Homo sapiens: one gene and its partners. The protein of the gene in region 2 purifies or fractionates together with the protein of the main gene of each other region. This does not show direct contact. Each region holds a gene or a part of one and is shown on either strand. Other genes may lie near its edges. The genes, in order: ABCD3, PHYH and PBLD.

Region 1 (3,618 bases), on a different chromosome or scaffold from region 2:
GTTTCATACTTATTTTCTCATTATATAAAAAGTAAAAACTTATTATGAGAACACGGTGATATGTCTTGGCATGCAGCGTGGTGCTCATGGATGAAAGTTCTTATTCTTTGGTTTATTCTTCGGATTAAACTACCATTTCCCACTGCAGTTTCTGGAAGGTGTTAATAGGAATTATGTAGAAAAAGATGTTCCGTGGTCAATCATGTTTTTGAACCAATGGATTTCTTTACTGTGGGTCTTCGAAGAACCACTATTATGTTAATGTGATTCTCCAGAAGGATCTTCCTCTGTGCCTCAAATGGTGAGGCACTGTAATATTTGTTACATAAAAAAGAAAATAATTAAGAAAAAAAGCCCAAATTGTTGTTGTTGTTGTTTTGATGGCAAGAATCATAACAAAAGCAATTATAAGGCAGCTAGGAGAATACTTCTACGAGTAGGTTTAAGGTAACCCAGAAATCTGAAAATCTGAAACTTTCCCATGCCTTAAAATCTTTTCCAAGACGAATAGTATCTTTTAAGGTCTCCTGGCTGTTTGGTAGCATTTGTCAGGTACACAGATTTTACTGAACTTTTCTAAAAGAGAAATTCATTCAATTAAAAACCACACTTGGCAAAACTTTAAAAAAGAGACACTGTGCTAAAAGCATTTTCTGAATTTATTTTTGTGTTTTTCAAGTCAAGATTAAACTATCTATGTTTTCAAGTCAAGGCTGAATTATAAATGAACTTCTCAGTATTTAGATACCAGAATAAAAAGAACAAGCAAAGGTTGTATAGGATATCTGAGTTTTTTTTTTTTTTTTTTAATCTGAACAGAAAATAAGTATACAAGTTCGCTAAACAGAAGTGGTAAAAATTGAATGTTATGTATTATGGAATTCAGTACATCAGTTTACTTCGGTAGCCAGTGATTGTTATAGTTAATTCTGCAAAAAAACAAAACCAGTTATGCAAAAACAAGAGTACAAAATGCCCCTTTCTGAAGCTCAGTTTGAGAAACTGATTTCGTATCTAGCTTATTGATTATACTCAGTTTCAATTCTCCCTGTGCAAATAATACATAAAGTCATTAATGATGATTTGATGAACTGAAATCATCTTCGCTTAGGATCGTTTGACATCATAACCCAAATATAAAAAAGTTATTCAAGATTCACAGAGATAAAACAGTGCCTCGGAAACATAATTCACCCATGTATATATAATAATTTTAGAACATACTTTTTAAACATAAAATCACAGTCAAAGACAGTGATAGCATTGCATACTCAGTGCATTATTTCATGTAGTGCCTTCCTATGGCTCATTTGGAGTTTAATACCAAATAACCACCACACTTCTAATGAATGGGCTTCTAACACACACAAATTTGTCTAATTCTCTTAAAAATCTAGAACTCTTATAAGACCTTGAGCCTGGCATGTTAAGGACTTTGTGTTTTAATATCCCAAACATTGGGAAGATTAGGTGTGATACATGGTAACCCCTCCTTGTAAGCAAGACTGCACATATACTTTAAACAACTCAATACTGCAGACTGAGAGGGGTACATTTATCATTTAGTTAAGGAAAACCAAAATGGCTTTTCCTGGAGTCAAATGCACTCCAAGACACACACAAGGAATGAGTATTACTGTGGCAGCTAAAGAAATCTGCCACTGTATAATAAACGCTGTTATGCAATGATGTTAAACATTTAAATAATACATTATGATTTGTTTCCAACTACCACAGGGCACAGGAAAATGAAACTGAAGACTATCTTGCTAGAACAGGACAAATGATGACCCAGTTTTAAATAGGGTTCTTCACTGAAGGAAAAGATAGAGCCATAAAAGTCCAATTAGCTGACTTCGAATGGTTTACATCCCAGGATGAATCAGGTTACAGTGATTGAAGCCCAATTTAATTTAGGCAGGTTTTTAACCACAAGAATAAGGACATTCTTAGTACATATTATTAATTAAACCAACATATACACAATTAGCAATATCCTATATAATATTAAATGTTTTAACAACTTGTTCTCCATTATTCTGTATCTAGTTAATTTGTTGCTTTGTTTTTTTTTTTAAAAAAAACTAAGCTCAACTTTATTTTACAATGTACTTTGCCTTTCTAAGTATATTCTGTAATTATTTCACTGAAGCAGGTATAGTTCTCCAGATTTCTCTAAGAGCCAAACTCAACTGTATCTTCTGTTATCTGTTTGAATTCATAGTTGCCTCTGCCATCCATATGCAGGTAGTACTATGGGAAAGAAGGGGGAAAAAAAGTCAGTAACTAAGAGTGAATATAGTACTGTCTTTTATGAAAAGTAAAATACAGACTTCCTCATTATTTTAAGGGAGCTAAATCTATAAGCATCCCACAAATCAGAATGCTTCCGTAACTCCATGACCAAGGATCTCAGCTACCAGTAGGTTAAACTGTGCTAAATGCAAGACTGTTCCATAGGTCAGTCAGTATTGTTTCCTGTAGCCTGATTTCCTAATCAGCTTGAAATCTCCAGCTTAAGGCTTTTTATTTGTTTTTAATTTAGTAGAGGGGAAAAAGAGCTATAAAAACTGCCGATATATCCTAACCTCTGAAGACACAACAGCAGTTACAAAGCCTTCTGTTTTTATTTAGTGGCTTATTTTCAGAAAGCTTTCTGAGTTTCCATTTTCTGTATTACTATTTCTTAGCTATCCTGGCCCCTCACATTCTAGTTGTGTTCCCCTCCTTCACATGATCACTGGCGTGATGATTATTTTGCTACTTGTCTATACCTCCAAAAGAAGAGGAAGGGTGAAACCCAAATGCTCTCAATTCCTCTCAATGTCCTATGGCTATAATACTTATGAACTTCCGAGAAAACATAAAGGCTTGGCTATATTTTAAATGCCTTTGATTTCTAGTTATTCAATTTCCTGCTCAGTTCATGAAAAATTGACAAGTTATAATATGCCATAAAATAATAAAAGCTATCTTTAAAAGTCACACAGTTATATAGAATTTCACTGAATTTTATTAAGTACTTTCATATAGGCTACCTGTCTAATTTTCATGGTAATCTAAGAGATAGGAAGGTAAGGCTCAATAACTTCATTATACAAAGGAAGCAACTGAGGCTAGAAACTTTGGTGCCTGAACCCAGGCTCTCTGACTTCAAATCCTATGCTCTTCATTTTATCACTTGTAGACTATCATCTACATCCTAAAGTTCTTGAAGGTAAAAACTGTAATTAATTTGCATCCCTCATGACACTTAGCTCAGTATCTGGCAAAAAAAGGTCCTTAATCAGGTATGTATTTTGTGGAACAAGGCACCTTTACCATTATTCCAATTTTTCTCAAATCCTTGCTTTTACCTAAAATTTCTATATCATTTAGGAAGGAAAAGAAGGAAAGAAGAGAAGAAAGGAAAGAGGGAAGGGGGAAAGACAGAAAGGAAAGAAGAAAAGAAAGGAAGGAAGAAAGGAAGGGAGGGAGGGAGGGAGGAGGAAAGAAAATAAAGAGAATTAAACTGGGTTTACTTTCAGGTTTTGAGCATTTCACATTGAGTTGAAAAGAACTGACATAGTGAGAATGGCACTACTGAAGCACCAGAATAAGTAATACACGTGCACCAAT
Region 2 (3,730 bases):
TCATGCCTGTAATCCCAGCACTTTGGGAGGCCGAGGTGGGCAGATCACGAGGTCAGAAGTTTGAGACCAGCCTGAGACACATGGTGAAACCCAGTCTCTACTAAAAATACAAAAATTAGCTGGGCATGGTGGCGGGCGCCTGTAATCCCAACTACTCAGTAGGCTGAGGCAGGAGAATCGCTTAAACCCGGGAGGCAGAGGTTGCAGTGAGCCGAGATCATGTCATTGCACCTAGCCTGGGCAACAGAGCGAGACTCCATCTCAAAAAAAACAAAAACAAAAACAAAAAACAAAAAACAAGTGAGCTAACTAAGGGTAGGGAAATCATTGGCTAAATAACAGTACAAGTTATGTCAGAAGTTGTGAGGATGGCTCTTGAATGGCTGGCATTTAGAAAATCCCAGCCTAGATGAATACAAAAAAATACCAGGCTTTATAAAAAGCAAGTGTGTGCCTGACTGCTAGGCTTTTAATAACCTTTCCAGGGTTTCATACTCAAATTGCCAATATTCCTTATACACAAGAGATCAAAAAGTGAGGAAGCAGTAGAAGGTGGCTTATTTTTTGGAGTCTTTTTTTTGCAGAATCAAAATTTGAATATCATGGGTTGTTTTATTTTCTTCTTCTTCTTCTTTTTTTTTTTTTTTTTTGAGACAGAGTCTCACTCTTGTTGCCCAGGCTGGACTGCAGTGGTATGATCTCAGCTCACTGCAACCTCTGCCTCCTGGGTTCAAGTGATTCTCCTGCCTCAGCTTCCCAAGTAGCTGGGATTACCGACGTGTGCCACCATGCCCGGCGAATTTTTGTATTTTTAGTAGAGATATGGTTTTGCCATGTTGGCCAAGCTGGTTTTGAACTCCTGACCTCAAGTGATCCGCCCGCCTCGGCCACCCAAAGTGCTAGGATTACAGGTGTGCGCTAACGCACCCGACCTCAGTGTTGAGCCCTTTCTGCTTTTTCCCTCTCCGTTGCTGGGTTCTGTACACAAGGTAGCGGCAGCCCAGCTCCCAGGCCCCACGACTAAACCAGCTCTCCCTGTCACGGTTCCCCATGTTAGCCTTTTCTTCATAATGCAGTGTCCCTCGGCCACTCTGACCCATGTCATTACTGGGTTAACATTTTTCATCTAACTCCTGGGACCTGCTTTGCTTGTTCACTCTTGCTTCCCCATTTCCCGTCACCTCCTGGTTCCCAGATCTCAGTAATGAGTTGTCAAGTGCCAAGCGTCCCCGATTGTCAAATGTCCTCCAAGCCACCATTCTGCTTTCTTCCGGGCTATTCATGACAGCTGTGAATTGTATGGGACTCTTCGTATGCAGAGGCTCCAATGAGGAAGAGGAAACTGCCCTCCCACTGAGCAACCTTCTGTTGCTTGGGTTGACAAGAAAGCTATATTAATATCTCATCGGAACTCCTATGTTTCTTGTAGAGAAAAAATGGTTTCATTCCCAGCTAGCTCAGAAAAAGCCCATTTCATTCCGTGTTATAGATTTAGAATGATTTCCAATGGCTGGGTTTTTCATGCTTTGTTTGCAATGTTGTGAAATACCGCTTGGTTCTTAAACTATTGCCTTCTTGGTTCTTGTGTGGATAGCTACTGTACTTTGTACCAGTTGTCAATACTTCTGATTTCCCACAAGGTTTGTTTTTGTTTTTTTTTTGCTTTCTTAGATTCTGAAATATGTGGAGTGCTTCACTGGACCTAATATTATGGCCATGCACACAATGTTGATAAACAAACCTCCAGATTCTGGTAATTGTAAGGGAGAAGAAAAAAAAATGGTTTCATTAAAATGTGTAAGGTTGGCTGGGTGCAGTAACTCATGCCTGTAATCCCAGCATTTTAGGAGACCAAGGGAGGAAGATCTCTGAGGCCAGGAGTTTGAGAGTGGCCTGGGCAACATAGTGAGGCTCTGTCTCTAAAAATAAAATTTAAAAATATCCAGGCATGGTGGTATGCACTTGTAGTCCCTGCTATTGGAAGGCTGAGGTGGGAGGATCACTTGAGCCCAGGAGTTGAAGGCTGCAGTGAACCTATAATGGCATGCTCTCCAGCCTGCGTGACACAGTGAGACCCTATCTCTACATAATAAATAAAACAAAACAAAACAAAATAATAAAATAGCTGATGTCTAACTGTAATCATGTGTACAACTGTCAAACTTTGGATAAGGAAGTCTTAAAATAACTTACACTATAACAACAGTGAAATGTGGTAATTATTTCAGATATTAACTGTAGGACTGTTGCTGAATTTTCAGATGACTGGCTCCCCAAAAATGCAGTTTAACCGACATAACTGTTCATATATCAAAGGTTCCTGCCATTCGACGTCTCTAAGCTTGATCAGCTCTTTTTAGCTGTGATAGTGTGGATTCTTGCATTCCTGATAGGAAGACATTATTATTACTAACACAATTAAAATTGTTACTATGAGTCACAAACTATAGTGGTCTTTTTTTTTTTTTTTTTTTTTTTTGAGATGGAGTTTTGCTCTTGTTGCCCAGGCTGGAGTGCGATAGCGCGATCTTGGCTCACTGCAACCCCCACCTCCCAGGTTCAAACAATTCCTGATTCTCCTGCCTCAGTCTCCCAAGTAACTGGGATTACAGGCATGTGCCACCAAGCCTGGCTAATTTTTGTACTTTTAGTAGAGACAGGGTTTCGCCATGTTGGTCAGGCTGGTCTCGAACTCCTGACTTCAGATGATCCACCTGCCTTGGCCTCCCAAAGTGCTGGGATTACAGGTGTGAGCCACCGCGCCCAGCCTATAGTTGTCTTTAAAATGTCTTGTGCTTGCTAAAATGTAGAATCTAAGACCTCATTGGCAGACAGACTGATTGAGAAATATAACCCAGGTTTCTGTATTTTAATAACCTTCCTCAAGCTGGGCGTGGATGTGCACCTGTGGTCCCAACTACTCAGGAGGCTGCGGGGGGAGGATCGCTGGAGCCCAGGAGTTCAAGTCCAGAGATTGTAGTGCAGATCACTTGGACTACACTGGGAAATTCCTCTGTGCCTGCAGTAAAAATCAGCCATGAGAGAGTCCCCCTATCCTTTCTGCCTTTTCTTCCTTCTGATCTGCAGGAGGGGTTTATGTGATAGAAGGCAGCTTAGCATTACCAGGTCTCTCCCTCCTTGAGGAGAGCAGGTGTTCGGGAGCCACACTCAGGGAGCAAACCAGGGGAAAATGTCAGTGTGGTCATGGGCACTCCGACTGGACATGGAATGACTATAGTTGTGGGGGGTGAGGACCTCTTAGATAACTTTTTTTATTTTTATTTTTTTTGAAATGGAGTCTTGCTCTGTTGCCCAGGCTGGAGTGCAGTGGCTCAATCTCGGCTTACTGCAACCTCTGCCTCTGGGGTTTGAGTGATTCTCCTGCCTCATCCTCCTGAATAGCTGGGATTACAGGTGCCCACCACCACACCCAGCTAATTTTTTTTTTTTTTTTTTTTTTTTTTTTTTGGTATTTTTAGTAGAGACAGGGTTTCACCATGTTGGTCAGGCTGGTCTCGAACTCCTGACCTCAGGCAATCTACCCGGCTCAGCCTCCCAAAGTGCTGGGATTACCGGCGTGAGCCACCGTGCCCGTCCTGTTTTGTGTGTTTTTTTTTCTTTTTCTTTTCTTTTTTTTTTTTTTTTGAGACAGAGTCTCACTCTGTCGCCTAGGCTGGAGTGCAGTGGTGCGATCTTGACTCACTGCAACCTGCTGCCTCCTGGGTTCAAG
Region 3 (3,500 bases), about 55 Mb from region 2:
CCAGCCTGTGCAACATAGCGAGAACCTGACTCTAAAAAAATTTTTTTTTACACAGTAACAACTGGTGAATCTAGAGAAAGGGAATATGCATGTTCATCATACCATTCTTGAAACTTTTCTGTAGGTTTTTAATTTTTCAAAATAAAATATTTAGAAAAATTATGTGGGTTTGAAAACAGAATTGAATTTCTATCCTGTGTGAGCTCCTAGCAGCAGTGTAAAAGTGGGCAAGTCATTTAATCTTATGGCCTCAGTTTCCACACCTTTAAGATGGGAATAATAGCACTTAAGTCAAGGTTTATTGTGAAGATATATACATGCATACGAATACACACACACACACACACACACACACACACACACACATTCCTCTTAACTCAAGAAAAAAGTGGACCCAGCTGGGCGTGGTGGCTCACACCTGTAATCCCAGCACCTTAGGAGGCTGAGGCAGGTGGATCACGAGGTCAGGAGTTTGAGACCAGCGTAGCCAATATGGAGAAACTCCATCTCTACTAAAAATACAAAAAAATTAGCCGAGAGTGGTGGCACGCGCCTGTAATCCCAGCTACTCGGGAAACTGAGGCAGGCGAGTTGCTTGAACCTGGGAGGCAGAGGTGGCAGTGAGCCAAGATCGCGCCACTGCACTCCAGCCTGGGTGACAGAGTGAGAGTCCGTCTCAAAAAAAAAAAAAAAAAAAAAAGTGGACCCGAAGTATGTTTTCCTTTTGAGAAGAAAAATCCATTTTTAATCAATAAAATGCTTACTAGTTAGATTTTGAATTTTAAAGAAGTTTCAAGAAAACACATTTTTATTTTGGCCAAATTTATTGCTCTTGATCTCCTGAAACTCTTTCTAACGGAAATCTACTAGTTAGATTTTGAATTTTAAAGAAATTTCAAGACAAATGCATTTTTGTTTTGGCCAAATTTATTGCTCTTGATCTCCTGAAACCCAGAAGAATTATAATTTTATATTAATAAATTCATAATTCACTTCTCTGAGTTATCCAAATTAAACACTCTTGTCTTTGATTCAAAATCTTTTGAAACATGTTCCATATAATTATATAGGGCATAAAAGTGTGATTATTGTGAAAAATCAGTCATGATTTTAAAACTACCGGCTGATATAAAAATCTTAGCAGGGGCCAGGTGTGGCAGCTTATGCCTGTAATCCCAGCACTTTAGGAGGGCGAGGCGGGTAGATCACCTGAGGTCAGGAGTTCGAGACCAGCCTGGCCAACATGGCAAAACCCCATCACTACTAAAAATACAAAAATTAGCCAGGAGTGGTGGTGCGCGCCTGTAATCCCAGCTACTCAGGAGGTTGAGCAGTAGTCACTTGAACCCGGGAGGCAGAGGTTGCAGTGAGCCGAGATCATGCCATTGCACTCCAGCCTGGGTGACAGAGCAAGACTCCATCTCAAAAATAAATAAATAAATAAATCATGGCAGGAAACATAATAAGCTTTTTTTTTTTTGAGACAGAGTCTCGCTCTGTCACCCTGGCTAGAGTGCAGTGGCACTGTCTCAGCTCACTGCGATCTATGCCTCTTGGGTTCAAGCGATTCTCTCATCTCAGCCTCCTGAGTACCTGGGACTACAGGTGCAGACCACCATGCCCAGCTAATTTTTTGTATTTTAGTAGAGATGGAGTTTCACCATGTTGCCTAGGCTGGTCTGGAACTCCTGAGCTCAGGCAATGCGCCCATATTGGCCTCCCAAAGTGCTAGAACTACAGGCATGATCCTCTACGCCCCGGCTTACCCAGAGAGAGACTGAAAGAAACAGAAAGAGAGAGAGAAAGAGATAACTCATCCCAGTGCCCAACACGTAGTAGGTACTTGATACATGTTAGCTTTTTATTTGAGTGGCTCAAAGTCATGCTTTAACTAGCCACACTACACTGCCTGCCCATCACAAAGACAAACGATTATTAACCCTGTAACATGCTACAGACAGGGAAAACAAACGTCTAGCAGAGAAAATGGACCCCTGCAAGGTTTCTAAGACGGAACAGCAATAAATAAATTAATGAGTACTGTGCTGAGCCAGGAGCACGGCAACACAACTAAGGGGATTTGTTAGAAATGCAGAGTCCGAGGCCCCCTGTCTTGGGCCTCCGACATTCTGAATCAGAATCTCCATTTTCACAAGCTCCCCAGGTGATCGTGTGCACATTAAAGTTTGAGAAACCCTTGTGTATAAGCCATGGTTGTGTTCAAGGGACTTAGCATCTAGGTGGGGAGTCAAGACAGCCACAGACAGCAACTGTGAACAATACCAGAGAAAATGTCATTGAGACACATAGATTTTGACAATAAATACTCTAAAACTTTAAAGATGAGGTCTTGTGGTGAACCTAGAAAAGAGGGGAGATTTCGGTGATTTGGACAGAAAAGTGTGTGCAAAGAGCTTTGTATTAGGACAGCTTCTTAGGCAAGTTGCTTGATCTCACTTCTGTTTTTTTGTTTTGTTCTGTTTTTTTGAGACGGAATCTCGCTCTGTCACCCAGGCTGGAGTGCAGTGGTGCGATCTGGCTCACTGCAACCTCTGCCTCCCAGGTTCAAGTGATTCTCCTGCCTCAGCGTCCTGAGTAGCTGGGATTACAAGTGTGTGCCACCATACCCGGCTGATTTTTGTATTTTATTAGAGATGAGGTTTCACCATGTTGGCCAGACTGGTCTCAAACTCCTGACCTCAGGTGATCCACCCACCTCGGCCTCCCAAAGTGCTGAGATTACAGGCATGAGCCACCGCACCCGCCCATTCTCTTGTTAAATCAGAGATTAAACTTTAACATAATGGACACTCTAGAATTCTAGAAGTAGGATGGTGAAAATGCAGTGGGATGAGTACCTGTCCCACCTGTGGGCACCTGTGGGCCTGGATAAGTGAGAAATCCCACCTAAGAAGAGGAGTAGAGGGGGCCACTGGAAAGTCCCAGCCAACAAGACAACAATGTTAACAATTGAACTCAAGCACTCTCCATGGCCTGTTGAATGTTTTCTGTGGAAACTGGTCCAGATGCACATGCACACAACACCTGATAGAAACTGGGAGGTATTTAAGCCCCTTAGTGCAGAGTCTGCAATCACAAGTCTCAGTGGTAATCGAAAGGTGATCAAGAAAAGCCTTTGCTGGCCTTCCTGGACTTGCCTCCTTGCTTGCAGAAACCTAAAGTGCCTGTCAGTCCTTCCTCTATATGATCTGGCGAAACTTCCTATCTTCGTCCTTCCTTTCTTTCTCTATAGCTCCCTGTGACCTTTAGGATAAGTCTTTAAAAGTATTAAAACATCCTACATTGTAGCCAAGCTCACCATCTATTGGTAATAGATTTCTTTGCAAATGGGCCCTTTCACACATTAGCTAGGACGCAAAGTCCACTGCCCACCAGCTCTTTAATCCTCTCTACCTTGGTATACTGCATTTCTTGCAATTTGAATTTATATAACTGTAACTTCTATTTCAGGACACTAAAAAATGCACCTGCTATTTGCC

What was found.
Region 1: the proteins of PHYH (region 2) and ABCD3 purify together in Homo sapiens (co-immunoprecipitation; one large-scale study listed by IntAct). This does not show direct contact.
Region 3: the proteins of PHYH (region 2) and PBLD fractionate together in Homo sapiens (co-fractionation; one large-scale study listed by BioGRID). This does not show direct contact.

The regions. Positions count from the first base shown.
Region 1 is NC_000001.11:94,515,687-94,519,304, reverse strand, and holds the end of ABCD3 (ATP-binding cassette sub-family D member 3), read right to left. Parts: intron 2,254-3,618; coding exon 2,176-2,253; 3' UTR 642-2,175; downstream 1-641. UniProt on the Homo sapiens protein: Broad substrate specificity ATP-dependent transporter of the ATP-binding cassette (ABC) family that catalyzes the transport of long-chain fatty acids (LCFA)-CoA, dicarboxylic acids-CoA, long-branched-chain fatty acids-CoA and bile acids from the cytosol to the peroxisome lumen for beta-oxydation.
Region 2 is NC_000010.11:13,289,854-13,293,583, reverse strand, and holds part of PHYH (phytanoyl-CoA dioxygenase, peroxisomal isoform a precursor), read left to right. Parts: intron 1-1,671; coding exon 1,672-1,753; coding exon of another isoform or gene 1,754-1,759; intron 1,760-3,730. UniProt on the Homo sapiens protein: Catalyzes the 2-hydroxylation of not only racemic phytanoyl-CoA and the isomers of 3-methylhexadecanoyl-CoA, but also a variety of other mono-branched 3-methylacyl-CoA esters (with a chain length of at least seven carbon atoms) and straight-chain acyl-CoA esters (with a chain length longer than four carbon atoms).
Region 3 is NC_000010.11:68,298,429-68,301,928, forward strand, and holds part of PBLD (phenazine biosynthesis-like domain-containing protein), read right to left. Parts: intron 1-3,500.